Linked DNA regions of Homo sapiens. The protein of the gene in region 1 purifies or fractionates together with the protein of each later gene. This does not show direct contact. Each region holds a gene or a part of one and is shown on either strand. Other genes may lie near its edges.

What was found.
Region 2: the proteins of QTRT1 (region 1) and POLE4 purify together in Homo sapiens (affinity purification with mass spectrometry; 2 studies listed by BioGRID and IntAct, with this or other methods). This does not show direct contact.
Region 3: the proteins of QTRT1 (region 1) and PLS1 purify together in Homo sapiens (affinity purification with mass spectrometry; 3 studies listed by BioGRID and IntAct, with this or other methods). This does not show direct contact.

Annotation. Positions count from the first base shown.
Region 1 is NC_000019.10:10,695,304-10,706,244, forward strand, and holds the start of QTRT1 (queuine tRNA-ribosyltransferase catalytic subunit 1), read left to right. Parts: upstream 1-6,135; 5' UTR 6,136-6,157; coding exon 6,158-6,400; intron 6,401-6,646; coding exon 6,647-6,715; intron 6,716-6,812; coding exon 6,813-6,951; intron 6,952-10,941.
Region 2 is NC_000002.12:74,952,345-74,963,071, forward strand, and holds the start of POLE4 (DNA polymerase epsilon subunit 4), read left to right. Parts: upstream 1-6,298; 5' UTR 6,299-6,335; coding exon 6,336-6,548; intron 6,549-6,996; coding exon 6,997-7,081; intron 7,082-7,760; coding exon 7,761-7,802; intron 7,803-10,727. UniProt on the Homo sapiens protein: Accessory component of the DNA polymerase epsilon complex. Participates in DNA repair and in chromosomal DNA replication.
Region 3 is NC_000003.12:142,668,309-142,678,822, forward strand, and holds part of PLS1 (plastin-1), read left to right. Parts: intron 1-1,081; coding exon 1,082-1,245; intron 1,246-2,684; coding exon 2,685-2,814; intron 2,815-7,848; coding exon 7,849-7,981; intron 7,982-9,723; coding exon 9,724-9,805; intron 9,806-10,514. UniProt on the Homo sapiens protein: Actin-bundling protein. In the inner ear, it is required for stereocilia formation. Mediates liquid packing of actin filaments that is necessary for stereocilia to grow to their proper dimensions.

The DNA.
Region 1 (10,941 bases):
TCCTGGACCCAGGACCTCAGCACCCGCTCCCTAAGGCCAACCATATAGTCCCCTGTTTGGGGGCTCCCCTGAGCAGTCGCGGGCGATCCCAGAGAAGGCAAGTTTCGGGATCTGACAGCCCCAGTCACGACCCTGGGTGCTGCGCAAGCCTCCATGTGAAGAGCGCGGAAACCGCCCCAGGCCTAGCTGCTGCAAACCACCGCTTCCAAACTTCCCGCCGGTCTCTAGGCTCCGGGTGCCCACCGCCCCTTCCTTCCTTCCTTTGCGCAATCAACAAGCTCCAACTCCAGATGGGATTTCGCAGGCCCTGCCCTGTGTATAAACTCTCTTCGTCCTGGGGTTGTCAACAAAATTTTTTTTTGGAGACGGAGTCTCGCTGTCGCCCAGGCTGGAGTGCAGTGGCGCGATCTCCGCTCACTCACTGCAACCTCTGATTCCCTGGTTCAAACAATTCTCCCGCCTTAGCCTCCTGAGTAGCTGGGATTACAGGCAAGCGCCACCACGCCCGGCAACAAACTCTTCTAATTGGCCGGACTCGCAGGCCCCGCCCCCACAGAGTGTGCCACTGCGTGGAGCGCGCCGCTCCTCATAGGGCGCTTGCGCAGGCTCCGCTCCCTGAGCGGCCGCTTTCCTGGTCTCCAGGCAACGCGTACGGCGCTGTCCACTGTGCTGAAGCCGCACACCAAGCGCCGCCTCTAGCTGCAGGCTCACGGCGCCCCCAGCTCTCCTAAGTGGGCGGTGCCAACACCCTAAAGCAGGGACCACTAAGCCTCCTTTGCGCCCTATCCCCAGTTTATCTCTTGGTAATAGGTAGAGCCCACTTCCCTCCACGTTGGCTGAGAAAGCCCTACCGTCCCATCCAGCTCAGAGGAAAGCCCAAGGCTTCCCGCGATTTCATGCCGTCACCTCCACACCCTCATCCGCTCACCTCCAGCCACACTGACCTCCGCGCTCACAACAGACAATCCAGACACATTCCCACCTCCAGGCCTTTGCTCTTAACTGTTCACGAGGCCTGGAGTGCTCTCTCCGATTCCGCATGACTCCTCCATCCTCCTTTCAGGCTCAAATCCCACCGTCTCAGTGAGCCCAGCCCTGACTATCCTGTCCTACTGAACACATTGACCTCTCTCTATATGTATGTATGTATATAATTTTATTTTTAGTTTTTTCGAGACAGGATCTTGCTCTGTTGCCCAGGCTGGAGTGCAGTGGTGCGATCATAGCTCACTGCAGCTTCCACCTCCCGGGCTCAAGCTATCCTCCTGCCTCAGCCTCCCGAGTAGCTGGGACTACAGGTGTGCAGCACTGCGCCCGTATAATTTTTGTATTTTTAGTACAGCAGAGGTTTTCGCCGTGTTGCCCAGGCTGGTCTCCAACTCCTGGGCTCAAGCGATCTACCTGCCTCAGCCTCCCAAGGTGCTGGAATTACAGGCGTGAGCCACTGCATCCGGACTAGAATATATTTGTTTAAGTGGGTGGATTAAGCCTCTTTTGATAATTGTTGAAGCTGGGTCATTGGTTACAAGGTGATAACTATGCAATTCTCTGTCCGTTTGTCTATGCTTGAAAAGTGTGTAATGAAGAATGTCAGGTGGCACAGTGATCTCCAGGAGGGGCAGAGAACCAGCATCAGGGGCTACACAGCTAGTGGTGGTACCCCAACGCCAACCCCACACATAGCCCAATCTCACAATGACTAAGTACAGAGACTGTAGTTGATGCTACAAGGATTACTGTGGCTGGAGACCAGATGTGCAACCACCTATAAACTTCCTGAGTGTAGCTTCAGTTTTGACATAAACTGTTCTTATTTTCATGAATCTCTGTGACATGGATGTAGCTGCCTCCAACTCCTGTCCCTAGTGTTTTCGAGCCCAAGGGCCTGTTTCTCCTTATCATTGGCTTTTTTCTTTTTCTTTTTCTTTTTTTTTTTTTTTTTGAGACGGAGTTTCACTCTTCTTGCCCAGGCTGGAGTGCAATGGCACGATCTCGGATCACCACAACCTCCATCTCCCAGGTTCAACCAATTCTCCTTCCTCAGCCTCCTTAGTATCTGGGATTATAGGTATATGCCACCATGCCCGGCTAATTTTGTATTTTTAGTAGAGATGGGGTTTCTCCATGTTGGCCAGGCTGGTCTCAAACTCCCGACCTCAGGTGATCCGCCCGCCTCAGCCTCCCAAAGTGCTGGGATTACAAGTGTGAGCCACTGTGCCCGGCCACCACCACTGGCTTTTGATCCAAATTGTGAATGGCAGAACCTGAGCCTTGTGCAGCCTGGCTGCAGGGCAGGCTGGGAAAGTAACTGTCAATTATAACTTCTATGGAAAGGCAGGCTTAGCCTTAAAAAATATGACATTCTCTCAATGCAGGGGTGTATGAGCGGGGTCAGGTGTTAGGTGGCCAAGAAAAGAAGGGGCTATACTAGCTTCAGAACAGCAAATCCAGGCAACCCTTAATCCAATCAGCCATTCATCCAATCATGGTGATTGCATTCTAAAATGCAGAGGATTCCCTCCAACATCCCAGAAGCTTTGGATAACCAAGAATTGCAGGCAGGTCAGAGCTCCAAGATAAGGTCACCCAGAAAAGAAAGAGACTCACTTTGGATAAGATAATGAAATGCTGTTTTTGGAACCTAAACCACTGAGAGGCAACATTGGCTGCACACAGAAATTCCTTGAGGCTTAAAACAAAAAACAAAAGAAAATTGATGACTGAGTCTCATCCCCATAGATTTTTTTTTTTAAGAGATGATCGGCCAGGTGCAGTGGATCACACCTGTAACCCCAGCACTTTGGGAGACTGAGGCAGGTGGATCACCTGAGGTCAGGAGTTCGAGACCAACCTGGCCAACATTGCAAAACCCTGTCTCTACTAAAAATACAAAAAATTAGCTGGGCATGGTGGTGGGCGCCTGTAATCCCAGCTACTTTAGGAGGCTGAGGCAGGAGAATTTCTTGAACCCGGGAGGTGGAGGTTGCAGTGAGCCGAGATCGCACCATTGCACCCTAGCCTGGGCGACTCTAATTTCTGGCCTCAAGCAATCCTCCTACTTCATCGTCCCAAAGTACATAAGCTACTCACCATAGATTTTAGTTTAAGTTGTCTGGGCATAGAGATAGTTAAAAACTCCACAGGTAATTCTATGTGCAGCCAAGAGTGAAAAACAGTGGTTCTGAAACGAGTGGGCATCAGAATAACACAGAAAGCTTGGCAAGAAGCAGACTTAAACACATATTGGCCAGGCGCTGTGGCAATCCTCCTGCTTCAGTCTCCCAAGTAACTGGAATTATGGGTAATTTTTTAACTTTTTTTTTTTTTTTTTTTTTGCCATGTTGCCCAGGCTGGTCTCTAACTCGTGGGCTCATATGATCCACCCACCTTGGCCTCCCAAAGTGCTGGAATTACAGGCGTGAGCCACTGCGCCTGGTAAACATTTTGAAAAATAGAAATATTAGCTGGGCACGGTGGCTCACACCTGTATCCTAGCACTTTGGGAGGCCTAGATGGGTGGATCGCTTGAGGTCAGGAGTTTGAGACCAGCCTGGCCATCATGGTGAAACCTTATCTCTACTAAAAACAAAAATTAGCCGGACGCGGTGGCTCACACCTGTAATCCCAGCACTTTGGGAGGCCAAGGTGGGAGGATCACCTGAGGTCAGGAGTTCGAGACCAGACTGGCCAATATGGAGAAACCCTGTCGCTACTAAAAATACAAAAAAATTAGCCAGGCGTGGTGGCGTATGCCTGTAATCCCAGCTACTCAGGAGGCTGAGGCAGGAGAATCACTTGAACCCAGGAGGTGGAGGTTGTAGTGAGCCAAGATTGCACTATTGCACTCTCCAGCCTGGGCAACAAGAGCAAAACTCCGTCTCAAAAAAAAAAAAAACAAAAAACGGCCGAGTGCGGTGGCTCACGCCTGTAATCCCAGCACTTTGGGAGGCCAAGGCAGGTGGATCACCAGGTCAGGAGATCAAGACCATCCTGGCTAACATGGTGAACACCGGTCTCTACTAAAAATACAAAAAATTAGCTGGGCGTGGTGGCAGGCGCCTGTAGTCCCAGCTACTCAGGAGGCTGAGGCAGGAAAATGGCGTGGACCTGGCAGGCAGAGCTTTCAGTGAGCAGAGATTGTGCCACTGCACTCCAGCCTGGGAAGCAGAGCAAGACTCCATCTCAAAAATAAAAAAAAAATTAGCCGGGTGTGGCAGCAGGCACCTGTAATCCCGGTTGCTTGGGAGGCTGACGTAGGAGAATCGCTTGAACCTGAGAGGCGGAGGTTGCAGTGAGCTGAGACTGTGCCACTACACTCCAGCCTGGGCAACAGAGTGAGATTCTGTCTCAAAAAAAAAAAAGAAGAAAAGAAAAGAAAGAAAAGAAATAGAAAAGAAAGGATGAGTGTTGTAGACAAAGGCAGGTGCAAAGGCCCTGAGGTTGGCTTGCTGGTGGGCAGGGGTGTTTTCCAGGCGGGTTTTCCGGGTGTGGCCTTACTAAGGATGCCCCACCATCTGGGCAACCGGCATCCTTAGCCTTTCTTACAGGATAGGGGGCTTGAGGCTCCCTTAGACACCCTCTTGGCCAGAGTAGCTCAGTTTAAGACAATTGAAAGGACATCTTCTGGGACAATAGCGCTCTCTGCTGGCCAGGACAGATATCAGATCCAGTTGTAATGATAACAATTACTATATAATATTGTATATTATTATTATCTTTTTTTTTAGGGTTTCGGTCTCACTCTGTTGCCCAGCCTGGTGTACAGTAGCCCAATCATAGCTCACTGCAGCCTCCAACTCTTCAGCTCAAGTGATCCTCCTGCCTCAGCTTCTTGAGTAGCTGAGACTACAGGGGCGTGCCACCACACCATGTTAATGTTTTTGTTTTGATTTTGTTTTTGTTTTTGTTTTTTAGATGAAGTCTCGCTTTGTCGCCCAGGCTGGAGTGCAGTGGCGCAATCGTGGCTCGACCTCCGCCTCCCGGGTTCAAGCGATTCTCCTGCCTCAGCCTCCCGAATAGCTGGGACTACAGGCACGCACCCCCACGCCCGGCTAATTTTTGTATTTTTTTAGTAGAGACGGGGTTTCACCATACTGGCCAGGCTGGTCTTGAACTCCTGACATCGTGATCCGCCCGCCTTGGCCTCCCAAAGTGCTGGGATTACAGGCGTGAGCCACCGTGCCTGGCTCACAACCTGTTAATTTTTTAATTTTTAAAACTTTTTTTTCTTTTTGACACAGAGTTTTGCTCCTGTTACCCAGGCTGGGGTGCAATGGCACGATCTCGGCTCACTGCAAACTCCGCCTCCCAGGTTCAAGCAATTATCCTGCCTCAGCCTTCGGAGTAGCTGGGATTACAGGCATGCACCACCATGCCTGGCTAATTTTGTATTTTTAGTAGAGACGGGGTTTCTCCACATTGGTCAGGCTGGTCTCGAACTCCCAACATCAGGTCATCCGCCCGCCTCAGCCTCTCAAAGCGCTGGGATTACAGGCGTGAGCCACCGCACCCAGCCACACCAGCTTAATTTTTTTTTTTTTTTTTTTTTTGAGATGGAGTCTCGCTCTGTCACCCAGGCTGGAGTGCAGTGGCACGATCTCGGCTCACTGCAAGCTCTGCCTCCCAGGTTCACGCCATTCTCCTGCCTCGGCCTCCGGAGTAGCTGGGACTACAGGTGCCTGCCACTGCGCCCGGCTAATTTTTTGTATTTTTAGTAGAGACGGGGTTTCACTGTGTTAGCCAGGATGGTCTCCATCCCATGACCTCGTGATCCTCCCTCCTCGGCCTCCCAAAGTGCTGGGATTACAGGCGTGAGCCACCACCCCCGGCCCTTTATTCAATCTTTACAAAGTCTTTATGCCGAGATGCTGTAATTCGCCACATTTTATCCAAGAGAAAATTATGGCTAAGAGAGTCTCTGATTGTAGCTCGAAAGTGCTAGGGATGGGATTCGTTCCCAGTTCAATTCTGATTCTTCGCTTTAGCGTGTTGTGGGTAGGAGTTAAATGGGCCCCCAGCCAGGACCAGGGGTTCAAATCCGTTGCCATGGTCCCCCGACGCTTTCCCGGGCTCCAGAACGGATCGCGTGGTCACGTGACAGCGGCCAACATGGCGCCGCCCACTGTGTGGTACGGCCCACGTGGTTCCGACAGTCAAGATGGCGGGAGCAGCTACCCAGGCTTCCCTGGAGTCGGCCCCACGGATCATGCGGCTGGTGGCCGAATGCAGCCGCTCCAGGGCCCGGGCAGGCGAGCTGTGGCTGCCGCATGGGACAGTGGCCACTCCTGTGTTCATGCCAGTGGGCACGCAGGCCACCATGAAGGGCATCACGACCGAACAGCTGGACGCTCTGGGTTGCCGCATCTGCCTGGGCAATACCTACCATCTGGGTCTAAGGCCGGTGGGTGGGCTCTGCCCGCGCGGGGAGGCGGCGAGGCGGCGAGGCGTGGGGAGCCATGGAGCGTCCTCCAGGCCCGGACACTCCTCCCAAAGTCAATCGACCAGCTGTATTGAGCGCCCCCAATGACCAGGCCTTGTACTGGGCGTGAAAGAGCAGCAGGGACTAAAGCTGGCCAGATCTGTCTCCCAAGAAGGGCCCCCAGGGACGCGGTCACCCCTAACCTGACACTTTCTTCCATCAACCCAGGGACCCGAGCTGATCCAGAAAGCCAACGGTCTCCACGGCTTCATGAATTGGCCTCATAATCTGCTAACGGTGAGCTGAGGAGAGAGCCGACGTTCTAGGGCCCTTCTCTGGAGTGAAGGGTCCCCATCTCCACCCCCTGACAGCTTTGCGGTGGGGTTTCCCTTAGGACAGCGGCGGTTTCCAGATGGTGTCGCTGGTGTCTCTGTCCGAGGTGACGGAGGAGGGCGTCCGCTTCCGCTCCCCCTACGACGGCAATGAGACCCTGCTGAGCCCGGAGAAATCCGTGCAGATCCAGAATGCGCTGGGTGAGAGGACCCTGGGGAGCCGCCTCCTTACCCTGTCTGTCAGGGGGTGAAGTTTACACGGGGCCTGTTTTTTAGCTGTTGTGTGGCTTTGAGCAGGTCACTCCTCGCTGAGCTTCAGTTGAACCAACTCAAAGCGGGGGTAAATAGTAGCAGGTCTTTGGTAGAATTGTTGACAAGTACATATGAGATGATGTCAGTAAATCTCCATCCCAGCCATGTAGTAGCTTAAGTATTATTATTGCAGTTTTTCTCTCATTAGCAAATTAAGACTGGACGTGGAAGCTCATGCCTGTAATCCCAGCAATTTGGGAAACTGAGGCGGGAAGATCACTTGAGGCCGGGAGTTGGAGACCAGCTTGGGCAATACAGGGAGACCCTGTCTCTACCAAAATAAAAAATAAAAAATAAAAAAAACAAATTAATTGGACAAATATCTGTTGAAATAATGGTGGCAACAAGAGGATTGGGGAGGCTTTAGGCTTCTCCCATATCCTCAATATCCTTCTTTTTTTTTTTTTTTTTTTTTTTTTTTGAGACAGAATTTTGCTCTTGTTGCCCAGGCTGGAGTGCAATTTTGCGATCTGAGCTCACTGCAACCTCTGCCTCCCGGGTTCAAGTGATTCTCCTGACTCAGCCTCCCGAGTAGCTGGGATTACAGGTGTGCGCCACCACACCTGGCTAATTTTGTATTTTTAGTAGAGACAGGGTTTCTCCATGTTGGTTAGGCTACTCTCAAACTCCTGAGCTCAGGTGATCCGCCTGCCTCGGCCTCCCAGAGTGCTGGGATTCCAGGCGTGAGCCACCACACCTGGCTTTTTTTTTTTTTTTTTTTTTTTGAGACAGAGTCGCCCAGGCTGGAGTGCAATGGTGTGATATCCAGTCACTGCAACCTCCACCTCCTGGGTTCAAGTGATTCTCCTGCCTCAGCCTGCTGAGTAGCTGGGATTACAACTGCTTGCCACCATGCCCAGCTAATTTTTGTATTTTTTGTAGAGACGGGTTTCACTATGTTGGCAAGGCTGGTCTCAAACTCCGGACCTCAGGTGATCCACCTGCTTCGGCCTCGCAGAGTGCTGGGATTATAGGTGTGAGCCACCACGCCTGGCCCAATATCCCCATTTCTTGATAAAGAACCATGGCAACACAGGGTCAAAACCCCTCTTCCCCTCATCATTCTAATAGATTGATGCTGTAGGGAGGAAGAAATATTTTTTCTTCTTAGATTCATGGCTGAAGCCCCTATAACAAAAACCCTTATAAGAAAAGAAGCCACGTGCTGGGTGCGGTGGCCACGCCTGTAATCCCAGCACTTTGGGAGGCGGAGGCGCGATCATGACTCACTGCAACAGCTGCCTCCTGGTTCAAGCAATTCGCCTGCCTTAGCCTCCCAAGTAGCTGGGATTACAGGTGCCCGCTACCACACCCAGCTAATTTTTGTATTTTCAGTAGAGATGGGGTTTCACCATGTTGGCCAGGCTGGTTACGAACTCCTGACCTCAAGTGATCTGCCCATCTTGGTCCCCCAAAGTGCTGGGATTACAGGTATGAGCCACTGTGCCCGGCCTATAAGTTTATTTTTTTATGTTTATTTATTTTTATGTATTATTTTGAGACAGAGTCTCACTCTGTCACCCAGGCTAGAGTACAGTGGCACAATCTCAGGTCACTGCAACCTCTGCCTCCTGGCCTCAAGCAATTCTCCTGCCTCAGCCTCCCAAGTAGCTGGGATTACAGGTGCATGCCACCACGCCCAGCTAGTTTTTTGTATTTTTAGTAGAGACAGGGTTTCGCCATGTTGGCCAGGCTGGTCTTGAACTCCTGACCTCAAGCGATCTGCCCGCCTTGGCCTCCCAAAGTGCTGGGATTACAGGTGTGAGCCACCATGCCCGGCCAAATATTTTTTGTAGAGATTAGAGTCTCACTACATTATCTGGGCTGGTCTTGAACTCCTGGCTACAAACAGTCCTTTGCCTTGACCATTCAAAGTGCTCATGTTACAAGCATGAGCCACTGTGCCAGCCCCCATGTGTTTTTTGTTTGTTTGTTTGTTTTTTCTGGAGATGGAGTCTTGCTTAGTCTCCCAGGCTGGAGTGCGGTGGCGCGATCTCGGCTCACTGCAAGCTCCGCCTCCTGGGTTCATGCCATTCTCCTGCCTCAGCCTCCGGAGTAGCTGGGACTACAGGCACCCGCCATTACGCCCAGCTAATTTTTTTGTACTTTTACTAGAGACGGGGTTTCATCGTGTTAGCCAGGATGGTCTCGATCTCCTGACCTCGTGATTCGCCCATCTCGGCCTTCCAAAGTGCTGGGATTACAGGCGTGAGCCACCGCACCCGGCCTCTTTTTTTTTGAAACCGAGTTTCGCTCTTGTTGCCCAGGCTGGAGTGCAATGGCGCAATCTCGGCTCACAGCAACCTCTGCCTCCTGGGTTCAAGCGATTCTCCTGCCTCAGCCTCCCGAGTAGCTGGGATGACAGGCATGCGCCACCATGCCCGGCTAATTTTGTATTTTTGGTAGAGACGGGGTTTCTCCATGTTGGTCAGGCTGGTCTTGAACTCCCGACCTCAGGTGATCCGCCTGCCTCAGCCTCCCAAAGTGCTGGCATTACAGGTGTGAGCCACCATGCCCAGCTAAAGTTCTAGCTTTTTAATGAATGTCGTAATTTTTTTTTTTTTTTTTGATGTGGAATCTCGCTCTGTCACCTAGGCTGGAGTGCAGTGGCTCGATCTTGGCTCACTGCAACCTCTGCTGCCCGGGTTTAAGCTATTCTCCTGCCTCAGCCTCCCCAGCAGCTGGGACTACAGGTGCCTGCCACCACGCCTGGTAATTTTTGTACTTTTAGTAGAGACGGGGTTTCACCTTGTTGGTCAGGCTGGTCTTGAACTCCTGACTTCAGGTGGTCCACCTGCCTCAGCCTCCCAAAGGGCTGGGATTACAGGCGTGAGCCACCGCACCCAGCCCCATATTTATTTTTTCGTCTTTTCTTTTTTTTTTTCTTTTTTGAGAAGGAGTCTCACTCTTTGACCAAGGCTGGAGTGCAGTGGCACTGTGTTGGCTTACTGCAACCTCTGTCTTCTGGGTTCAAGCACTTCTCCTGCTGCAGCCTCCCGAGTAGCTGGGATTACAGGTGCCCATCACCACACCTGGCTAGTTTTTATATTTTTAGTAGAGACGGGGTTTCACCATGTTGGCCAGGCCGGTCTCGAACTCCTGACCTAAGGTGATCCACCCGTCTCGGCCTCCCAAAGTGCTGGGACTACAGGCGTGAGTCACCACGCCTGCCCCTTTTTTTCTTTTTTGAGACACAATCTCGCTCTGTCACCCGGGCTGGAGTACTGTGGTGCAATCTCGGCTCACTGCAACCTTTGCTTCCTGGGTTCAAGCGATTCTCCTGCCTCAGCCTCCCAAGTAGCTGGGACTTCAGGTGCATGCCACCATGCCGGGCTAATTTTTGTATTTGTTGTAGAGACAGGGTTTCACCATATTGGCCAGGGTGGTCTTGAACTCCCGATCTCAAGTGATTGACCTGCTTTGGCCTCCCAAAGTGCTGGGGTTACAGGCGCAAGCCACCAGGCCTGGCCTGTTCTTTTTTTTTTTTTTTTTTTTTTTTTTTTTTGTGGAGACAGAGTCTCGCTCTGTCACTCAGGCTGGAGTGTAGTGGTGCGATCTCGGCTCACTGCAAGCTTCACCTCCCGGGTGCACACCATTCTCCTGCCTCAGTTCCCGAGTAGCTGGGACTACAGGTGACCGCCACCACGCCCGGCTAATTTTTTGTATTTTTAGCAGAGACAGGGTTTCACTGTGTTCGCCAGGATGGTGTCAATCTCCTGACCTGGTGATCCACACGCCTTGGCCTCCCAAAGTGCTGGGATTACAGGCGTGAGCCACTGCGCCCGGCTGTGGCCTGTTCTTTTTTATTTTAAATTGTTTTCATCTATTTATTTTCTTAATAATGGAGATGGGGTCTCTCTGTGTTGCCCAGGGTGGTCT
Region 2 (10,727 bases), on another chromosome or scaffold:
CATGGACAAACTTATGATACTTTATTTTTGTCTCTTTATTTTTTCCTTTTAAAGAGTCTGGTGATTTTTTTTTTCTTTTTTGTTACCCTAGTATGCCCTCTATTTTCCCTATGATGTATTTAATCATTAACCTTCCAAATATGTGTCTGTATATGTATACATTTATGTACACATATATATTCATGCACAAATATAGATAAAATGATGCCCTGTTAAAATAAATAATTGGGAGGCCATTAGGCTGAGATGGCTCCACTGTCTCGGGTTTCTATACGGCCAAACTGAAACCTAACTCAGTGTGAACAGCCATATTGCAGGAAAACAAAGCTTAAGCTTAACCAGTCAGAAACTGTTGAGCTGGAATTTTTTCCTTGACCTTGTGGGAGGGAACTGGAGTAGCACATTTCATTCAGCCTGCCACTGGCCACTCCTCATGAGAGGGAGCATGTGAGCAAGAAGAGTGCAGGAACCAAAGTGAACTAATGCTGGAACTGGCCGGTTGCTCCTCTCTGGCGGGAGCCGGCTCTGTGCAGGGCCCTGTAGGAGTGTCCCAGCCCTTGTCCTCTTGGCATTTGGGTTCTTGTCCAGTGTCTAGGAAGAATCGTCACACGAATGAATTGAAGGTTGGCGTATGCAGAGGATTTTATTGTGTGATGGAAGTGGAAGTGGCTGTCAGCAGAATGGGGAGTTGGAAAGGGGATGGTGCGAGAAGAAGATCTTTGCCTGAAGCTGCACTGTCTGAAGTTAGCCACATCTGTCTGTAGTCTTAGATGCTCAGTTGCTTCTCTGCTCAGCCATTTGTATCCCTGATGCTCAGCTGCTTGTATCCTCAATGCCCAGCTTCTTGTGTCCCTGACGCTCAGCTGCTTGTATCTCTGACGCTCAGCTGCTTGTATTGCTCTGCCAGTTAAAGTTTTTTTATGGGCACAGGATAGGGGTGTGGCAGGCCAAAAAGGCAACATTCAGGTAGAAAAATGGGTCAGCTGTTTTCACTTAGGGCTGTAGTTCCAGGCTTAATGGTGGGGTTTAACTGAGAGCCCAGCCATTCTGTTATCACTGCCAACTCACCTCTAACTAGGAACTTTATGGCTACTGCTCTACTTTAACCAATCAAATATTTTCTTTGTCTTGTTCCTCAAATACTTTATAAAGCATCTCCCCTCCCCCTGCCTCAGTGGAGCCCAGACCCAGCTGTGGTTTGGCACTACCCGATTCATGAATCACTATCTGCTCAAATCAACTCTTTAAAATTTTAATGTGCCTAGGTTTATCTTTTAACAATACACACGTGTACATACAACACATATATGATTTTTTTTTAAAAAAATTCAGAAATGAAGTGATACTGGTTCCTCCACTAACTTATCTCCTGGATAGGACACTTACTCCAGTATGGTAGATGGCAAGCTGTCTTTAATCTTTAGCTTATTAGATAAAATACTTCACAAGTTAAAAGAAAACTTTAGACAAGTTAAATTTTACAGAGTTTAACTGAGCAAAAAATGATTCTCGAATCAGGCAGCCCCCAGAACCAGAATAGATTCAGTGTGATTTTAGGCCTGCCGCATGGTAGGATAACAAGGAAAATGATGTCCAGAAAATGGAAGTGAGGTACAGAAATAGCTGGAACGGTTACAGCTTGATGTTTGCCTTATTTGAACCTGGTTTGAACCTGGTTTGAGCAGCTGGCTGCCTGTAATTGGCTGAAACTTGGCTATTTCTTACAAGAGTAAGTGACCGTTTTCACATCAAGTTACCTTGCATTTCTCTACATATGAAGAAACCTTTAGGCCAAACTTAAACTATGTAAAGAGACAGCTTTAGGCCAAACTTCACTTAACACACATCATGTTTTTTTTGCATTAATTTTCATCACGTAGCCTTTTAAAGATATTTTTAGCCTTCATTCTATTTGGACTGGAATGCGAACCGTGTGTGCGTGTGTGGCTTTTTGAGCTTTTCAACCTTCGTCTTCCTGTTTCTTCTGCCTTTTTTCCACTGAAACTCAAAAACTGTGAAACGTGATTTCCCTTTCTAACACACCTTAGTGCTGTTCAATACTTATAGTCAGGAAGTCCTGTCTGGTCTCCATAAACTCTTGGTTAGTCATAGTCAAACCAGGGAGAGAAGGACTGCACCAAGTGGTGAGACATTCAAGTGATGAGGAAAAGAAAAGAAAAGAAAAAAAAAAGAACACGAAGGGGAACAAAAAAGGAGAAAAGGAGGAAAGGCAGGGAACATATGAATGAGACAAAATTGGGAAGAAAAGGGGGTTGAAATGAGAATCCTCTGAAAGCCAAGTTGACTCAGCCCTTTCAAGAACTCTTAACTCCTCCTGCCCGTTAAAGGTGTGTGAACCAGAGCAACTCCATCTTGAATAGGAGCTGGGCAAAATGAGGCTGAGACCTACTGGGCTGCATTCCAAGATGGTTAGGGCATTCTAAGTCAGCGGATGAGATAGGAGGTTGGCACGAAATACAGGTCATAAAGACCTTGCTGATAAAACAGTTTGCAGTAAAGAAGCCAGCTAAAACTTACCACCAAAACCAAGATGGCCAGGAGAGTGACCTCTGGTCGTCCTCACTGCTACACTCCCACAAGCACCATGACAGTTTACAAATGCCAGGGCAACATCAGGAAGTTATCCTATATGGTCTTAAAAGGGGAGACATGAATAATCCACCCCTTGTTTAGCAGATAATCAAGAAATAACCACAAAAATGGGCAACCAGCAGCCCTCAGGGCTGCCCAGCCAATGGAGCAACCATTCTTTTATTCCTTTACTTTCCTAATAAACTTGCTTTCACTTTACTTTATGGACTTGCCCTGAATTCTTTCTTGTGTGAGATTCAAGAACTCTCGCTTGGGGTCTGGATCAGAACCCCTTTCCTGTAACATTTTTCTGGTGACCACGAAAGGACTCTAGCAAGGAAACCCCTGACCCAAAGGCTAACTTTGGGTAAGTGGTGGGGTCCAGTAACACCCCCACCATTGTCAACTGTCTTATGTTAATTCAGAATTTAGGTCAATTTAGTACTTAGCTACTTTGCGATTGCTGGAGTATAGCTCTTGTGAGGTGTTCTTGTGCACTGTGACACAAGAATCTGGTCATGCTTTTATGAATTTTGTGTGGAGCTTTCCATGAGTGAGAGTGTCCATAAATGTAATCTGAAAAGAACCCAGGACTGAGGCCCTAATGGCTGCTCTGGTTCAATTTTCAGCAACTCATATCCTCTTCTGCAGATTTTAATTCTGGGCCAAGACTCTTATTCTGCTATAGTGGAGTGTCTCTGTGCTAATTCAGGGTTGGGGCTCATTACATGATACCCCAAAGTATGGTACTTTGGAATGCTGAGTACTTTGAACTGAAGAAAATTGGAAAGGCCTCAGAAGCAAGGTCTTTCTGAACTTCTCCTGTCCTGTTTTCCACTGTAAGCAGTAGAAGTTATTACAGTTACTGGCAGCAAATTGCAGCAACCTCGATTCTTGTCTCCTCAGAAGATGTCGACTGAGGGGCATAAGGCAAAAGAAGAGACTGAGGCAAGTTTTAAAGCAGGAGTGAAAATTTCTTAAAAAGCTTTAGAGCAAGAACGAAAGGAAGGAAAGTACACTGAGAAGAGGCCCAAGTGGGTGACTTGAAGGACAAGTGCAAGGTTTGACCTTTTGACTTGGGTTTTTATGTGTTGGCATACTTCTGGGGTCTTGCATCCCTTCTACCCTGATTCTTCCCTTGGGGTGGGTTGTCGAAATGCACAGTAGCCTGCTAGCGCTGGGGAGGGGAGCAAGTGCAGTGTATTTATTGAAGTTGTAAGCATGCTCACCTGAGGCGTTCTTCCCTTTTTCAGTAGAATGCCCCCAGAAGGTCATATATCAGTTAAATTCCACCATTTTGCCTCTTAGTGTGCATGCGTGAGCCCGCTCGCCCAACTCCTGAGATCTCATCAGGAAGCTCCTGATCATCAGTTTCAGGGTTTTTCTATCTATAGGGAAACTGCCTTTCCCTGGCGCTGGCTATGAGCAATTATTATTTTAGAGAGGCGGTGTGACCACTGTCTGACCATCACCTGATGATCTTCTGACATTCCTGGTGGAGCGTGGGGGCCCTATCCTGCCCTGTTCGTGTCTGACTAGCTACCCACTGTAACATCACCACTCTTCGCAGTGAGTCATGGAAACCAGAATTCCTCTTTCCCAACGCAGGTCATAGAAACTAGAATTCTCCTTCCTCCAAGCAAGTCGTAAAACCTAGAAAGGTTATTTTCTGCCTTCTCCCTTGAAGACCCTCATTCCAGAAGGGTCCTGCCCTAATACCAGAAGGAATGCTACACAGGGAGGCCAAGAAGAATATGAACAGACAGGCCTTGCTGGGTTTCCCCATTCAGTCTATTACCATTAGACTATTATCATTCCCTTTTTGTCCAATCCCATTTCTTTTTCTTTTTAAGACACAGGGTCTCTCTCTGTCGCCCAGGCTGGAGTGCAGTGGTGCAATCATTGCTCACTGTAACCTTGAACTCCTGGGCTCAAGCAACTCTCCCACCTCAGCCTCCCAAGTAGCTAGGACTATAGGATCACAATACCCAGCTAATTTGTGTGTGTGTGTGTGTGTGTGTGTGTGTGTGTGTGTGTGTGTGTAGAAATGGGGTCTCCATCTGTTGCCCAGGCTGGTCTCAAACTCCTGGGCTCAGGCGGTCCTCCTGCCTTGGCTTCCCAAAGTGTTGGGATTACAAGTGTGACCCACCGTACCAGGCCTCTAATCACATTTCTACACAGCGATCCCTTCTTCATATAACCTAAGCATAAAAATAGTTTCCTCTAGGTCTCATGGTCTGCATTTTTGGACTCTCATGTCATGTAAAACTTTGATTAGACTTGTTAGGCTTTTTGTGTGTGTTATAGGAGTGTCAGCTGTGACCCTTAAAATGGGTAAAGAAAGGTTTCACACCTTTCCACTCCTACACCAGTCAGAGTTTACTACATAATTTTGGAACTGAGTGATTTCAGATGTGTTTAATTCAGCTTCATCTTGGCTTCACCACATTCTGCCCTGTGTATGCGACTCAGTAACCACTCTGCACCTCAATTTTTTCAAATAAGGTTTGAAAAAGAAGGTTATAATATTTACCTCAATAGGGTATTGTGAAAATTACAGAAGTTATGATTTACATAAATCTAAAACACTTTGAATCATGCACATAGTAAATGTTTAAAGGTGTTCACTATTATTATGATTGACTTAGATTAAACCTATTTTAAATATTAACTGTTCCTCTACGCTATCAGACCTCCAAGTGTGGTGTGGGGATTCATGGGGGTGGGAATTTTCTGGAGACCCTTTTCAGGAGTCCATGAGGCCAAAATTATTTTCTTAATACTACTATGAGGTTGCCTTTTTCATTCACATTCTCTCAAGATGTAGTAGTTTTTTAAGAGCTACCTGAGAAGTGCTAACGTTAGCAACAGAAGCAGCTAGAGAATCCAGTTCTCACATGAAATCAGACATTAGAGACTTTTCTTACTAGATTTAAAAAAAATTACTTGTCATAAAAATGTTGTTTGTTAGCTGGTAACGCATTAGTAATTTTAAATCAATATTTTAAAACTTTAATTCTAATATAGTAAGTATTGATATAACTGACAGAAACAAAAGCTCCCTGGGCTCTTTAACAATCTTTAAGACCGTAAAGGGATCTTGAGGTCAAATTTGAGAACCAAAGCTGTGATGCAACCTCTTTTTGAACAAACGTGGATGCCTCACCACCACAATTTCATCTTTTCTAGCCTCCATGACTTTTTCTTGTTTCCTCTGGCTGGGCTGAATTTCTTCATTTCTGCCTGCCAAAAGCCCTACCCCTCCTTCAAGAGCATCTATAACTGGTTATCCTTGAATTTGGTCCAGATTTCGCTGCCTCCTTGGCACCCTCTTCCACGATGCTGGGCCCTCCAGGGCCGGGCCTCCCTCGGACACGTGCCCTCGTTAGCCTTGGAATATGCACACTCTGTTTTGACGGAGACTCTCTTGCGAGCCTGGTCTAGATTTCTCCCCTCACCAGCCAGGCACAGGCACCAATGGGAGGTGCCTGGGCTCCACAGGCCCGTCGGGGCCAGAGGGTCGCCGGTAGCGTCAACCAAGTGCACGACAGCCCACGGGTGGCTAGGCGCGTGGGAAGAGCCGGAGCCCGACCCCCGCCCACCCGGTTTCCTGGCAGCGCACTGCCGCGTAGGGGCGGAGCCGCGCGCCTACACAGGGTGTGGCCTCCAGCCCGCGCGGGAAAGGGCCTGCGCCGCATGCGCGCGCACAGTCGGCGGCCGCGCGCAGCACGCTCAAGGCCGGGATGGCGGCGGCGGCGGCGGCAGGAAGCGGGACGCCCCGAGAGGAGGAGGGACCTGCTGGGGAGGCAGCGGCCTCGCAGCCCCAGGCCCCAACGAGTGTGCCTGGGGCTCGTCTCTCGAGGTTGCCTCTGGCGCGAGTGAAGGCCTTGGTGAAGGCAGATCCCGACGTGACGCTAGCGGGACAGGAAGCCATCTTCATTCTGGCACGAGCCGCGGTGCGCCTGCAGCGCGAGGGCATGCGGGAGTGGGGGAGGTGGAGTGTGGGGCGGGGCCTCGGGGCCTCCCGCGGGCGGGGCTTAGGGCGGCGTGGCCCGGGTTTTGAGATGTGGGCGTGGACCCGGAAGGCGGAGGAAAGGGGCCGGGGACCTGTGCGAGTTTTGTTAACACTCCTCCCTCTTGTTGAGGACCTGGATAGTGAGTGACTTTAATTTGTATCTCCAGGGCCTCGTACAGAACTTGTAGGAGTCTTTAGTGAATGAGGGAGAATACTGGGAAGAGGGTAGCGGAATGGATCTTCATGAAGTCCAGGACAATCTTAGCTTCCAGAACATTTTCTTGCCCCGAGCCTTTCTTCTCCCTTTCTGCCCCCACCCACAAACCGGAGCCCTCACCTCCTCAGTGTGTTAGAACCCATTACTAAAACTTTGCTTTTTTACTTCACAGGAACTGTTTGTGGAGACCATTGCAAAAGATGCCTACTGTTGCGCTCAGCAGGGAAAAAGGAAAACCCTTCAGAGGAGAGACTTGGGTAGAGTGGCACTGCAGTGTCTGGGGACAGACAAGGGAGGGCTGGGCTGGTTTCCCCTTGTGCAGGTTGAGAAGACGTCACTCTGATCTGAGAGGTGCCACAGCGTCTCTCCCCAGGATGGTTTCTGTTGGCCACAGTGCCAGGAAGCCCTACCTGTAGAGGCTGTCTGCTTGGGGTGGCGGGGCAGTGTGTGAAGGTGTCTGGGGTTGCCGTAGCGGACTGGATCCCTTCATACCTTCTGCCAAATTGCACCAGAAAAAGATATTTCTTTTTCACCTAGCAACTGGGGATTTGATTTCTGACTCTTGTCTGGCTGGGAACCCTCACCTGGGTAAGATTTCGTATACCGTATTCTCATGCGCCCTGCGTCTATTGCCACGTTCTTCTCTGACAACTTTAAGAGCAAAGCGAATAAATAATTTAGGGGTAATTTAGGAGGCCCCCAACCCCCGCGTTGAATGGTATTTGCCTATGCTTTTCTTAACTCTTCTAGGGAGACAGCTAATATATATAAGAGTTGCTGGTAGAGTAGATATGGATCTCAAGGCAGCAAGGGACGCATCTTATAAATGCCCTCATTTGCCCAAAGCCTCATGCCCTTCACTGCAGATTGTGCTGTTTTCTGACTGAGGTCAGCATGGCTGAAGTTAGTCAGGTGTCTCTTTTCCTTGTGTTTCAGATAATGCAATAGAAGCTGTGGATGAATTTGCTTTTCTGGAAGGTGAGTTCCCTCTCAGTGGGCAATCATTTCCGCCTGTCTTTTGCATGTTGATGTGAAATTCAAAATCTCATAAAACGGATGCCTGCTTCTTGTTTGTGTAGGGATAATTCTCCGCACTTGCTATTAGGATAGAAAAAAGTAACTTGCTAAACCTAGTGAGGTTCAGTTTTCTCCCTTGGGGAATTAAAATTTCTACCTGAAAATTGCTAACCATAAAGAAATAGGAGGGAATATAAAGATCCCAGTGGAGTTAGATGAATTCGAAAGTTCGATTCCTACTTTGATCGCCATCCCTAAATGTCAGGCTTGCCCCCCCTCATCATGTTACAGATCAGAAACAATTGTTAACATTTAAAGGGTCACCGCTTGTTCTTTTTTCTTCAACAATCTGTGTGAAGTGATTATTTTGCTGCAATAAGACTTGTACTTGTCTGTATTTTTAGGAGTCATGGATTAACTTGTGTACTAACTAAATTTTGTCATTAAAAAAGAAAATATTTGAAATACCTAATTTTAGCTACCTAGCCTCAGAGCGATTTCTGCTACTTAATTCTTCAGTCTGATCAGCTTACTCTTCACTACACGTATGTAGTCATGTGCTGCGTAATAACTTTTTGGTCAGCCATGGACTGCTCACATGAGGGTGGTCCCATCAGATTATAATGGAGCTGAAAAATTCCTTTTGCCCAGTGAGGTAGTGGTCATAACATCCTAATGAAATACATTACCTTTTCTATGTTTAGATTTGTTTAAATACACTTATCCTCATGTTACAGTTGCCTACAGTATTCAGTACAGTAACATGCTGTTCAGGTTTGTAACCTGACAACAATAGGTATACCCTGTAGACTAAGTGTGTAGTAGGCTATACCATCTAGCTTTGTGTAAGTACCCTCTATGGTGTTCACACAGTGGTGAAATCGCCTGAAGATGTGATGCATTTCTCAGGATGTATCCTTGTTGTTGAGCGACACATGTATTTTGATTGAATAGCTTAGCAAAAGCCATGTATCCTTATTCTCCCAGGGTGTTCTCATTACCTCCTTCAAGCCTTATTACCTTTAGAAATATCTTGATTTATTCCACTCTTTTTTACTCCTTTGTTCTGCATCTCCCTGTCAACCTAGGCCCCTGGTCCTTTTGATAGATATTTTTTAAATGTCTTATTAGATAGATAGACTACCATGGCCAACTCTATGTCTAGACTATTGAGCATTCTTTTAATTTGCAGATTTTTCTTCAGCCTCTCTTTCCACCTACTCATTTTTCTTAAAATTAACTTTTGTTAGTCCTACCTAAGGCAGGCACTCCTTGTGACAGACTTTCTGTAAGTTCTGCAGTCAAAAATGTTTGGAGCCTACTTTACCTCTTCATTTTTAATTACCAGCTTTTCAAAGACATGAGTGATATGATCAGATTTGTATTTTAAGTGCACAACATTGCTGCCCTGGGGAAAATAAACTGGAGGGTACTAGGAATAGAAGTGGGGTGGTCTTATGTAGTTTTCCACTCTAGCCTCTATCACAGCATAGTGCTTAGCTTGGATTTTTAATAAATGGCCATTTATTGAATGATTGGTGTGTTTATTTTCATCCTCTGCCTTCATCCTCATTTATCTCTGTAATTGAATCCCTTTGCTCTGTCCTACATTGGTAGATCTGAATGTTAGCCATCATAGCCCCTGTGGATTCAGTCTGCATTATATTATTTTTTACTGGGTAAAATAAATGTTCTTATGTCCTTAGGTGTGTATGGTCTAAGTAAATACATTTTTTTCGTTTTTATAATACATATCCATACTTGAAAATCAAATCGTTACCTAATGGCTTATAATGAAGTACAGCTGCCGTCCACCCACTGTTTTGTTTGTGTTTTGAGCTTTTCTGGTGGTTACGTTTATTTCTAACTAATATGCTTACCCATTGGTTTGTCAGCTGTAGACGGTATGTATTGACTTCCTGCTGTGATAAATGAAGATTTGGCTAACCTGTAGAACCCCATAAATCCCCTGCTGTCTTTCTGATTTTTGGTAGTTGTATCACTAGTTTTAGTTTCTTTACCTTTACAGTTTATATAACATACTAGGATGTCTTTGGTTGTTGTGTCCAATTTTTAATGTATTCCTTGACTCCCCAGTTTGTAAAGTATGACTATTAGTGCATGTATCCCTTTTCCCTTTCTAGTTCACATCTAGCTATCAATTTGTGTTATCTAGTAATTTGACATTGTCAAAGCTAATAACATTTGTATCTTATCACAATTAAATCTTCCATGCTTTATCTCTGGTTGATTGTAGAAGTTGAAAACTAGGACTGTAAACAGTCTTTCTCTACCTTCTCTCTGTCCCTTAATTCCTCATTCAGGTCCCCTCCCTGCAAACAACTGTTACTAGTTTTCTTCTGTAATCTGGATATTTTATGCAAATATGTTTGTATGTGTATATGTATATTCTTTTTCTAAGTCATATGAAATACAACGTATGTAAAGTGTGTGCTGTAAATGTAAAGTCAATAAATGATAAAATGAACACTCTCGTAACCACCATCTTGGCCAAGAGATAGGGTATTGTCAGCCCCCAGAGTCCCACGTATATTCATTCTTCATCATACCTATTCTCATCCCCTTTCCCGACATTACTGTTTCCTAACTTTTTTGGTAATTACTTCCTTTTCTTTATAGCTTACTATATAAGCATGCATCCCTGAACACTAAGGTTTAGTTTTGTTTTGTTGAACTCTCTGCAAATGGAACCAAACCGTATGCATTCGTTGGCCAACATCTGTCACACAACTGTTTTAAGTTAACACATTTATGAGATTCATCTGTGTGATTGCACATAACTCATTTGTTCGTGTTCCTTGCTATATGACAGTACCACAATTGAACTATTTTAATGTTGATATTTGGGAAACCTTATTTCTCCTA
Region 3 (10,514 bases), on another chromosome or scaffold:
AGTCCAAATATAGGTGTGAATTTCTTGAACACCTAATCTCAAATGACATCAAGCATGATTCAGCATACGTAATGGTATCATGAATACATAATGAAGAAGCAATGAATTATTGACAGATGAAACAGAACTGCCACCAAATGAAACGTAGAACACAAATGCCTTATGCGTATTTTACACAGCGCATGTATTTTATATGGAATGTGGGGTCAGCAGATTTATTTTCTAAATTCCCTCAAGAAGTTAAAGTCTGAGTGGGTGCTCCCTTTTTAGCTATCTGTGACTTCCCCATGCTTATTCCTTTTTTTTTTTTTGAGATGGAGTCTCGCTTTGTTGCCCAGGGTGGAGTACAGTGGCGCAATCTCGGCTCACTGCAACTTCTGCCTCCTAGGTTCAAGTGATTCTCTTACCTCAGCCTCCTGAGTAGCTTTGATTACAGGTGCCCGCCACTATGCCCAGCTAATTTTTCCATTTTTAGTAGAGATGGGGTTTCACCATGTTGACCAGGCCGATCTCAAACTCCTGACCTCAGGTGATCTGCCTACCTCGGCCTCCCAAAGTGCTGGGATTATAAGTGTGAGCCACTGCGCCTGGCCCCCCCCATGCTTATTTCTTTGATGCTTAGTCATGTGCTAAAACTGGGTTTTCTATCAGAGCAACAATACCCTTAAAATATATATGGTGGCCCTAAATCTATGGGGATAAACTCGATTTAAATATATACAAAGTTTTTGTTTTGTTTTTGTTTTCGTTTTTTAAGAGATGGGGTCTCACTCTATTGCCTAAGTTGAGGGGCAGTGGTGCGATCATAGCTCACTACAGCCTCGAACTCCTGGGCTCAGGCAGTCCCCTCACCTTAGTCTCCCAAATAGCTGGAACTACCAAGCCTGGCTTAAATACGAGTTTTTAAAATAAAGCATATAGCATATTCTGTACAGTTCAGGTACAGGAAAAAAGGTTACTGCCACCTGTGAAACAAATGTGAAAGGCTCTGTCTGCACATCTATGAATCCTCCCAAAAGGCATCCTTATTGTACACCTTCAACAAAGATTACAAAATATATTTTATAATATATCTTTACAGATATTGACAATAGTGGGTATGTCAGTGACTATGAACTTCAAGACCTGTTTAAGGAAGCAAGCCTTCCTCTGCCTGGCTACAAGGTGCGCGAGATTGTGGAGAAAATTCTATCAGTTGCTGACAGCAACAAAGATGGCAAAATCAGTTTTGAAGAGTTTGTGTCAGTAAGTAATCTAATCCTTTCGGGCTACTGATAATCTTGCTTAGAGCAGAATTGTAGTAATGTCATCACTAGCTTTGGTTAAATCCAGCTTCAGAGACCAGAAAAAGGACTGCTTTAAAATGATGATGATGATGATGACAATAACTATTATTATCGAAATAATTTCCACAACTAATTCATAAAACAAAGGAAAAAATTATTCTCAAATTGTTGGAATGGAAATCAGGTTTAGATAATAGTAATTCATTCCCTAGAATAACTAGGTGAGTTCAATGCTTATTGACCATTAATATAATTGAATAAATATTTATGAAATATAAATTGTCTGGTTTTGCATTCTTTATTGATTAAGCAGGTATTTTAGCTCTTCTCTTCCTAGAAATTTTGCTAGGCACTGTGAGTAATGTGATGAGTAAAAAGAAACGTGATTCCTGTCTTCATGGAGTTTATATGTGTGGAGAAGACTGCATTGCACAAATTGATAAAAGATAATTGGAGAATTGCTATGACAGAGTGGTACAGGTCCTGTGAGAGTTTGTGGTAGAAGGAATTGAATTTGGAGGCAAGGCTGGATAACCCAGGGACTCAGGGAAGGTATCCCTACAGTGTGAAGACTGTGATGTGTTCTGAAGAAAGATGTTAAACAGATAAAAGTGGGTTGTGGGAAAATGAATAATGTAGGAGGCAGGTAGACATGACAGCATGTGTAGAGTCCCTGTGGCTTTAGAGATGGTGAATATTCTCAAGCAACTGAAAGAAGGTTTGTGTGACTGGAGCTGAGATGGTAAGGGTAAGGAATGTAGCTGGAGAAGTAACTCAGAATCAGGTCACACAGGGCCATGTCGAATTTTTGTTTTTATCCTAAAAGCAATAGGAAGACAATGAAGTGGGAAGAATAGAATGTGAAGTGACAAGATCAGATTTGCATTTAAAAAAAAACCCAATCACTTTGCTGCAAGCAGAACTGATTGAATTGAGTCTTGCCAATCTCTGGTGAGTCCAGTGAGAGAGTGATTGGGAAAGGGAGTTTCTGTAAGCCTATGTTATTTCCTCTAAGAGCTGACTTATTTTATCATGAATGCATTTGAGATGTTCAGGCAGGAAAATATCTTCATTAAGGCATTCTTCTATCTTTAGCATGTAGTTAGTTATTTCTTAGGTTTTCAGTACAAAAGATTATGGCAAGCCAAGAAGAATAATTTCAGTGTGTTCAATTTAAGCTTAGTTATAAAAAATTTATTCCACCGTTTGGGGTTCAAGTATTTGTCTATTTTGTGTTATTGGTAAAATGATGAAAGTTATCTGTGTATACAAGCAATAAGTACAACTGACTAGTATTTAATTTGGTGTCATTTCAAATAAAGAAGTGTAAATAAATATCCATTTTGTCAGGTTTTTATTGATTATCTGATTCTCAATTTTACTTATGTTCCATTCCAGCTAATGCAAGAATTAAAAAGCAAAGATATCAGCAAAACATTCCGAAAAATAATTAACAAGAGGGAAGGGATTACTGCTATTGGAGGAACTTCAACTATTTCCAGTGAGGGCACACAGCATTCTTATTCAGGTAACTGACTTCTCCAAATTTGATCTTTTAGTCACTGATTCATTGATTAAGTGACATATTTAATCAGTTCTAAGATGCCACTCATTGTGATTCATACCGTTATTTTATGTGCCACTGAGGAGAAAAAAATACTGCAGACCACAGTATAACATGCCATTGAATTTGAAATACATCTCAGTTTCACAGATGTCAAAATGAAAAATCCTAGAATCATTGAAATCAATGAGTTCCTGCTGTGTATCAGGCTCAGTCTACAGAAACAAGATTATAAACAACAAAGTGGAAGTTGTTTATACTCCAGCATTAGATGTATTTAAAAGTGGCTTTTCAATGGCTTTTCATCCTGACTGATGAGGTGGCTTTACTTTTAGACCTGAGCTAGGAATGGGGGAGAGGCTTCTATCACAAGGATTTTTCTCTTCCATTTTCTGAGATCTGAGATACCCGATTCACCTTTTATCTAGTAACCAAGTGACTAGAGAGCATAGCACCTGATTTGCTTGATCTGATTAAACCACTGGACCATTGCCCAGTGGGAAATGCAGAAGCATATCAACTTTTAAGATGAGGTGTCTTCCCCGTGTTAAGTTATCTAAGATGTCTAAGAACCTTTGGCCAAGTTCTTTTTATTTATATGAACATAACTAGAACTATGCTTTTTGGCCTTTTGACAAAATTACCTGTAACCTTTTCCCCTCTTTCTTCATTTCAGATCTGAATCTGTTAATTATCCTCTTGATTCTGTCCCTTCCTAATTGGATTTTCCTCTAGCGATACACTCAAATTTCTCTCATCTATTATATGTTTTTCCTAACTTTTTCCCACTAGGGAAGCAGCCATAAAGGCAAAGGTCCATAACTGTTACCTTCACTTTTTGAAAGGTATTCACCCCTTAACCCAGTTTCTGCCTGTCAATTCTACTGAAGTGGCTTCTTTTTAAAGACAAAAAAAAATTATTAAGGTATAATACACATTCAGCAAAGTGCTATAATCTTAAGTATATGGCTCAATGAATTTTTCCATGTGTATATACATTCATGTAGCTGCCAACCAGAACAAGACATGGAATCTTTTCATCACCTGAAGACTCCCTCATTCCCCTGATAGTAACTATTCTTCCCTAGAGGTAACCTCTTTTCTGATATTTGTCACCATAAATTTTTGTTTACTTATTTTTTGAGGTATAAGATACTTGTAGTAAAGTGCATGAAGTGTACTTTTTTTTTTTTTTTTTTTTTGAGATGGCGTCTCGCTCTGTCGTCCAGGCTGGAGTGCAGTGGTGCGATCTCGGCTCACTGCAAGCTCCACTTCCCAGGTTCACGTCATTCTCTTGCCTCAGCCTCCTGAGTAGCTGGGACTACAGGTGCCCGCCAACACGCCCAGCTAATGTTTTTGTATTTTTAGTAGAGTCAGGGTTTCACCGTGTTAGCCAGGATGGTCTCGATCTCCTGACCTCATGATCCACCCGCCTTGGCCTCCCAAAGTGCTGGGATTACAGGCATGAGCCACCACACCAGGCTGAAGTGTACTATTCTTAAGTATATGGCTTGATGATTTCTTTTAACCTATGAATACACCTATATAACTATTCTCTAGAAAAATATATGGAATATTTAATGGCTTTTATAAAAAATAGCAGCTTTATTGAGATATAATTGACATACCATGGAATACATTTTTAAAGTATACAGTTCAGTAGTTTTTAGTGTATTCATAGTTGTGCAATTGTCATCACTATTTAATTTCAGAACACTTTCATTACACCAAAGAAGAACACTATATTCATTATCAGTCACTCCCCATTTCCCTCTTCCCGAAGGCTCTGCAACCATTAAACTGCTTTCTATTTCTACAAATTTGCCTATTCTGGAAGTTTCATATAAATGGTATCATACTGTAGTGGCCTTTCATTTGACAGGCTTCTTCACTGGTGTAATATTTTCAAGGCTTATCCATGTTGTCACATATATCATACTTCATTCCTTTTTTTCTGACTGCAGCCTCGACCTCCAGAGTTCAAGGGATCCTCCCACCTCAGCCTCCCAAGTGCATAACCATGCCTCCCAAATGTGTACCACCATGCCCAGCTAATTTTTCTATCTTTTGTAGAGATGGGGTTTTGCTATGTCACCCAGGTTGATCTTGAACTCCTGGGTTCGAGCGATCTGCCTGCCTTGGGATTACAGGTGTGAGCCATGGTACCTGGCCCCTTCATTCCTTTTTATTGCTGAATATTCCATTCTATGGGCAATACCACATTTTGTTTATCCTTTCATCAGGTGATGGACATTTGGGTTGTTTCTAGTGTTTGGCTATTATAAATAATGCTATATGAACACTCATGAATGCATTTGTGTGTGGACATATACTTTGAATTCTCGTAGGCATATACTTAGGAGTAGAATTGCTTGAATTTTTGTTAACTCTATGTTTATCATTTTTAAAGAACTGCCAAATTGTTTTCCAAAGTGGCTGCACTTGTGAGGGCGATCTGGCTGCGACATCTGTCACCCCATTGATTGCCAGGGTTGATTTGGCTGATCTGGCTGGCTAGGCAGGTGTCCCCTTCCTCCCTCAGTGCTCCATGTGAGTCCTTCCCGAAGCTGCGTGCTCGGTTGAAGAGGACAACCATCCCAATAGAAGAGGACTGGTCTTTGGTCAAGGGTATACGAGTAGCTGCACTCCCCTGCTAGAACTTCCAAACAAGCTCTCAAGGTCCAAAGTGGCTGCACCATCTTACATTCCCACCAGCAATGTATGAGGGCTCCAGTTTCTTCAATTCTCACCAACACTTGTTTTTGTCCATTTAAAAAATTACAGCCATCCTAGTGGTTGTGATGTGGTATCTCATTCCTGGTTCCTATACCTGAAACATCCTTTCTTTCCTTGCCTATATTCACCTATTGAAAAACTATATTTCAAATAGTACCTCCTCTATGAAGCCTTTTCTTGATCACCCTAACTAAAAGTGATTGCTTCTTTTTTTAAATTCTGCAAACATTGCATATATATTTCTGGTGGTGTGTGTATTTCCCTTATATCACATTTCTTTGTATATTTGTTTTACAATTACACTAAAAAATTCCTCAATGGCAGATACAGTATTTTAGTGATCTCTGAATTCCTAGACTCCAAATCCTTCTAAGGAGGTGTGTATGAGGAGGCGAGAAGATAAGGCAGATTATGATATGTACAAAGAGGAAATATTAGTACATATTTGTGTTTTTGTTGACTTGTGTGTGTATGTATGTGTGGTGGATTAAATTTTGGGGGTACCTGCAAAATATTCCCTTGGGAAAATTACTTAATTCTAGGAACTGGGGCAACAATGGAGAAGGCCAAATCATTATGTGCTACCCTCTGATGGAAATGGGGATTATTTACTTTAAGGATTTATAATCTTAAATGGTTTTTATATCTACAGAATAATAATAAAGTTGTACAATGTTTTTACTTTAAGTTCCTTCCTATTTTCCCCACTGCATAACCCAACAAAATTTTCTACTTAAGATCAATGTACCCATACTAGAAGCCATGTGTTGAGAAGTTGTTGGATGAAGATGGCCAAAGATAGTGCTGGTATCTAGATTTGTGTCAATTTTTTCTTCGTTTTTTGTTTTTTTGAGACAAGAGTCTTGCTCTGTTGCCCAGGCTGGAGTGCAGTGGCGTGATCTCGGCTCACTGCAACCTCCGTCTCCCAGATTCAAGCAATTCTCCCTGCCTCAGCCTCCAGAGTAGCTGGGATTACAGGTGCCTGCCACCACACCTGGCTAATTTTTGTATTTTTTAGTAGAGATGGGGTTTTGCCATGTTGGCCAGGCTGGTCTCAAACTCCTGACCTCAGGTGATCTGCCCACCTCAGCCTCCCAAAGTGCAGGGATTACAGGCATGAGCCACCGCACCCAGCCAATTTGTGTCAATTTTTTAATAGTTAAATTCCATTGAAATTGAGCTGTTTTATTCATTTGAATAACTCTTGACTGAATTCAGTATTTCTGTTGTAAGCTAAAAATCACAGCTCTCTAAACCTTTTGGGGAGGATGGGATTTATTGCCATGGTATTTGTTTCTTGTATTTTTTTCCTTATTTAATTAACATATACATATTTGACCTCCGATGGTCTGCTTCTGACTCATTAGCTTTCAGAAGCAATACATATTTGGAAATATTTTTGAATCAAACCAAATATATATTGTGCTCATTTAAGATATATACCTTCATCTCTCCTAATAGATCAGTTTTTTGTTTGTTTTTTTGTTTGTTTTTTGTTTTTGTTTTTGAGACAGAGCCTTGCTCTGTCACCAGGCTGGAGTGCAGTGGCGCGATCTCGGTTCACTGCAAGCTCTGCCTCCTGGGTTCATGTCATTCTCCTGCCTCAGCCTCCCAAGTAGCTGGGATTACAGGCCCACGCCACCATGCCCAGCTAATTTATTTTTGTTTATTTAGTAGAGATGAGGTTTTAACATGTTGGCCAGGATGGTCTTGCTCTCTTGACCTCGTGATCTGCCCGTCTCAGCCTCCCAAAGTGCTGGGATTACAGGCGTGAGCCACCGTGCTCCCCGTTTTTTTTTTTGAAAGGGTCTCTCTTTGTGGCTTAGGCTAAAGTGCAGTGGCAGGATCTCCACTCACTGCAACCTCCACCCCCCGGTTCAAGCAATCCTGAAGCCTCAGCCTCTCGAGTAGCTGGGACTATGGGCATGTGCCATTATGCCTGGCTAATTTTTGTATTTTCAATAGAGACGGGGGTTTCTCCATGTTGCTCAGGCTGGTCTTGAACTCCTGACCTCAAGTGATCAGCCCGCCTTGGAAGTGCTTTGGGAAGTGCTGGGATTACAGGCGTGAGCCACCACACCCAGCCACCTTTCTTCTTTTCTTGAACCCTTTTGTGTTTTAGTAGATTTGTAATAATGGTCAATTATTATCTTTGAGCAGAAATTAACAAGTATGTTTTTGTAGTGCAATAGCTATGTATGTTTTTATAGTGCAATAAAGTTTGTGAAATGAGATTTGCCTACCAAGGTTTTCTCCTTTCAGAGGAAGAAAAAGTGGCTTTTGTTAACTGGATAAACAAAGCCCTGGAGAATGACCCTGACTGTAAGCATCTTATACCCATGAATCCCAATGATGATAGTCTTTTCAAGTCACTTGCAGATGGCATCCTTCTTTGGTGAGTTGAACTTCTGGTTAAGGAAGCTGCGTTCTTGCTGATTACATTGATGAGCATTCCATGAAAACTCCAATTCAGCTGTCCATTGTCTTTTGGAGTCAGTAGCTACTTAGGTCATGAGGAATTTATATTGCATAGAAAATGAACTACTGTATATCTATTGGAAAATTTCCAAAATTTTCCTTCAAATACAATCCCTTGTTTTTCTGTTGCCTTTTACGTGTATTACTATAATAATTGCCAGGAATCTTTTGAGTTATTTGTCTGATGCAGTTTTAAATATTCGCAGGGTTTCTCTTTTCTTTTTCCAGTAAGCGAGTATTGATTATTGACTGGAATGGGACATGAGGAAATGTAAAGGGAAGATATTCCTTATTTGTACCTAAATGAAAATAATGTTTTGATTCAGCCTTGTGTTATCCTTGGCTCTTTGCATTCTATTTTTTCTCACTATGTTGTAAACTCTCTGAGGGAATGTCTTTGTCATTGTTGTGTGTACCACAGTCCCAGCATACTTCTTTGGACAAAGCAGAGGTCTTTTCTTTAGTTTATAAAAAGTACAAAAGATTTACAAAGTAGAAAATAACCATCAAAAATATCCTTACCACCCATAAATGACTTATTAATATTCTAACACATTTCCTTCAGTCTTTTTTTTTATGTTTTTACTTAAAAAGGAAAACAAAACCTTACCCATAAGTACAGGATATTAGATTTTATGACATTAAATATAAAATATACCTTGACCTCCACCTACAATTCTTATCTTTCTTTGACTCTCAGAGAAATTCCTATTATGAACCAAATGGGTATTTTCCTATTCTTGTTTTAAAAGGTAAAATTCTAAAATATAGAGACAAAATTTATATTAATTTCTCTGAAAATGTCTAAATTATTGGTCTTAGATGAAATCTCTGGCTTCGTATCTTTCTGCAACAACAGTAATTTTAACAGTGTTGATACTACTTTATGAAACTTGGCTTCTTGGAGAATTTCTTTGTTTTAGGCTGCGGAATACTGATGATCATTAAGTGAAATAAAGACAAAACTAACATAAAGAAAATTCAGGGTGATGACTGGGCGTGGTGGCTCATGCCTGTAATCTCAGCACTTTGAGAGGCTGAGGCAGGAGGATCACTTGAGGTCAGGAGTTTGAGACCAGCCGGGCCAACATGGTGAAACCCCATCTCTACTAAAAATACAAAAATTAGCTGAGAGGTGGCACACACCTGTAATCCCAGCTACTCGGGAGGCTGAGGCAGGAGTATCACTTGAACCCAGGAGGTGGAGGTTGCAGTGAGCTGAGATCACACCACTGCATTCCAGCCTGGGTGACAGAGGTAGACTCCCTCTTAAAAAAAAAAGAAAATTCAGGATGGTTAAAAAAAATTAGGAGAAATGCTTAGATTACTATTGCAGTGAGTGATGGATTTGTTTTAGGAATGGGAATATTTCTTGGATTTTAAGAATTAAGTTCCGGCATGAATTATAGTTTAATTAATTATTATTATTATTTTTTGAGATGAGGTCTCTCTGTTTTACACAGGCTGGCCTCAAACTCTTGGGCTCAGCCTCCCAAGTAGCTGAGATTATATGCATGTGCCACCATGCCTGGCTTACTGTTTAATATTTTAAAGTAATGAATTGTTATTTTCAAAATTTATCTATTTTGGCTGTTTGCAATAATAAACTAAAAAAATTTCTTGGAGTATTAAACTAAATTATTCTCATTTTCTCTTTAGCAAAATGATCAACTTATCTGAACCAGATACAATTGATGAAAGAGCCATCAATAAGAAAAAGCTCACGCCATTCACTATTTCTGTAAGTATTTGCCCTTTGCTTATTATCATGTTACTATGCTGAGAAATATAAGACCTTTATTAATGAATGCTTGGACCCAGATAAAACCTTTGATTTAATTGTAATGCTATTCTCCTATAAAAACTTTTTTTTTTGGAATCCTTTTTTTTATTTTTATTTTATTTTATTATTATTATACTTTAAGTTTTAGGGTACATGTGCACAATGTGCAGGTTAGTTACATATGTATACATGTGCCATGCTGGTGTGCTGCACCCATTAACTCGTCATTTAGCATTAGGTATATCTCCTAAAGCTATCCCTCCCCCCTCCCCCCACCCCACAACAGTCCCCAGAGTGTGATGTTCCCCTTCCTGTGTCCATGTGTTCTCATTGTTCAATTCCCACCTATGCGTGAGAATATGTGGTGTTTGGTTTTTTGTTCTTGTAATAGTTTACTGAGACTGATGATTTCCAATTTCATCCATGTCCCTACAAAGGACATGAACTCATCATTTTTTATGGCTGCATAGTATTCCATGGTGTATATGTGCCACATTTTCTTAATCCAGTCTATCATTGTTGGACATTTGGGTTGGTTCCAAGTCTTTGCTATTGTGAATACTGCTGCAATAAACATACGTGTGCATGTGTCTTTATAGCAGCATGATTTATAGTCCTTTGGATATATACCCAGTAATGAGATGGCTGGGTCAAATGGTATTTCTAG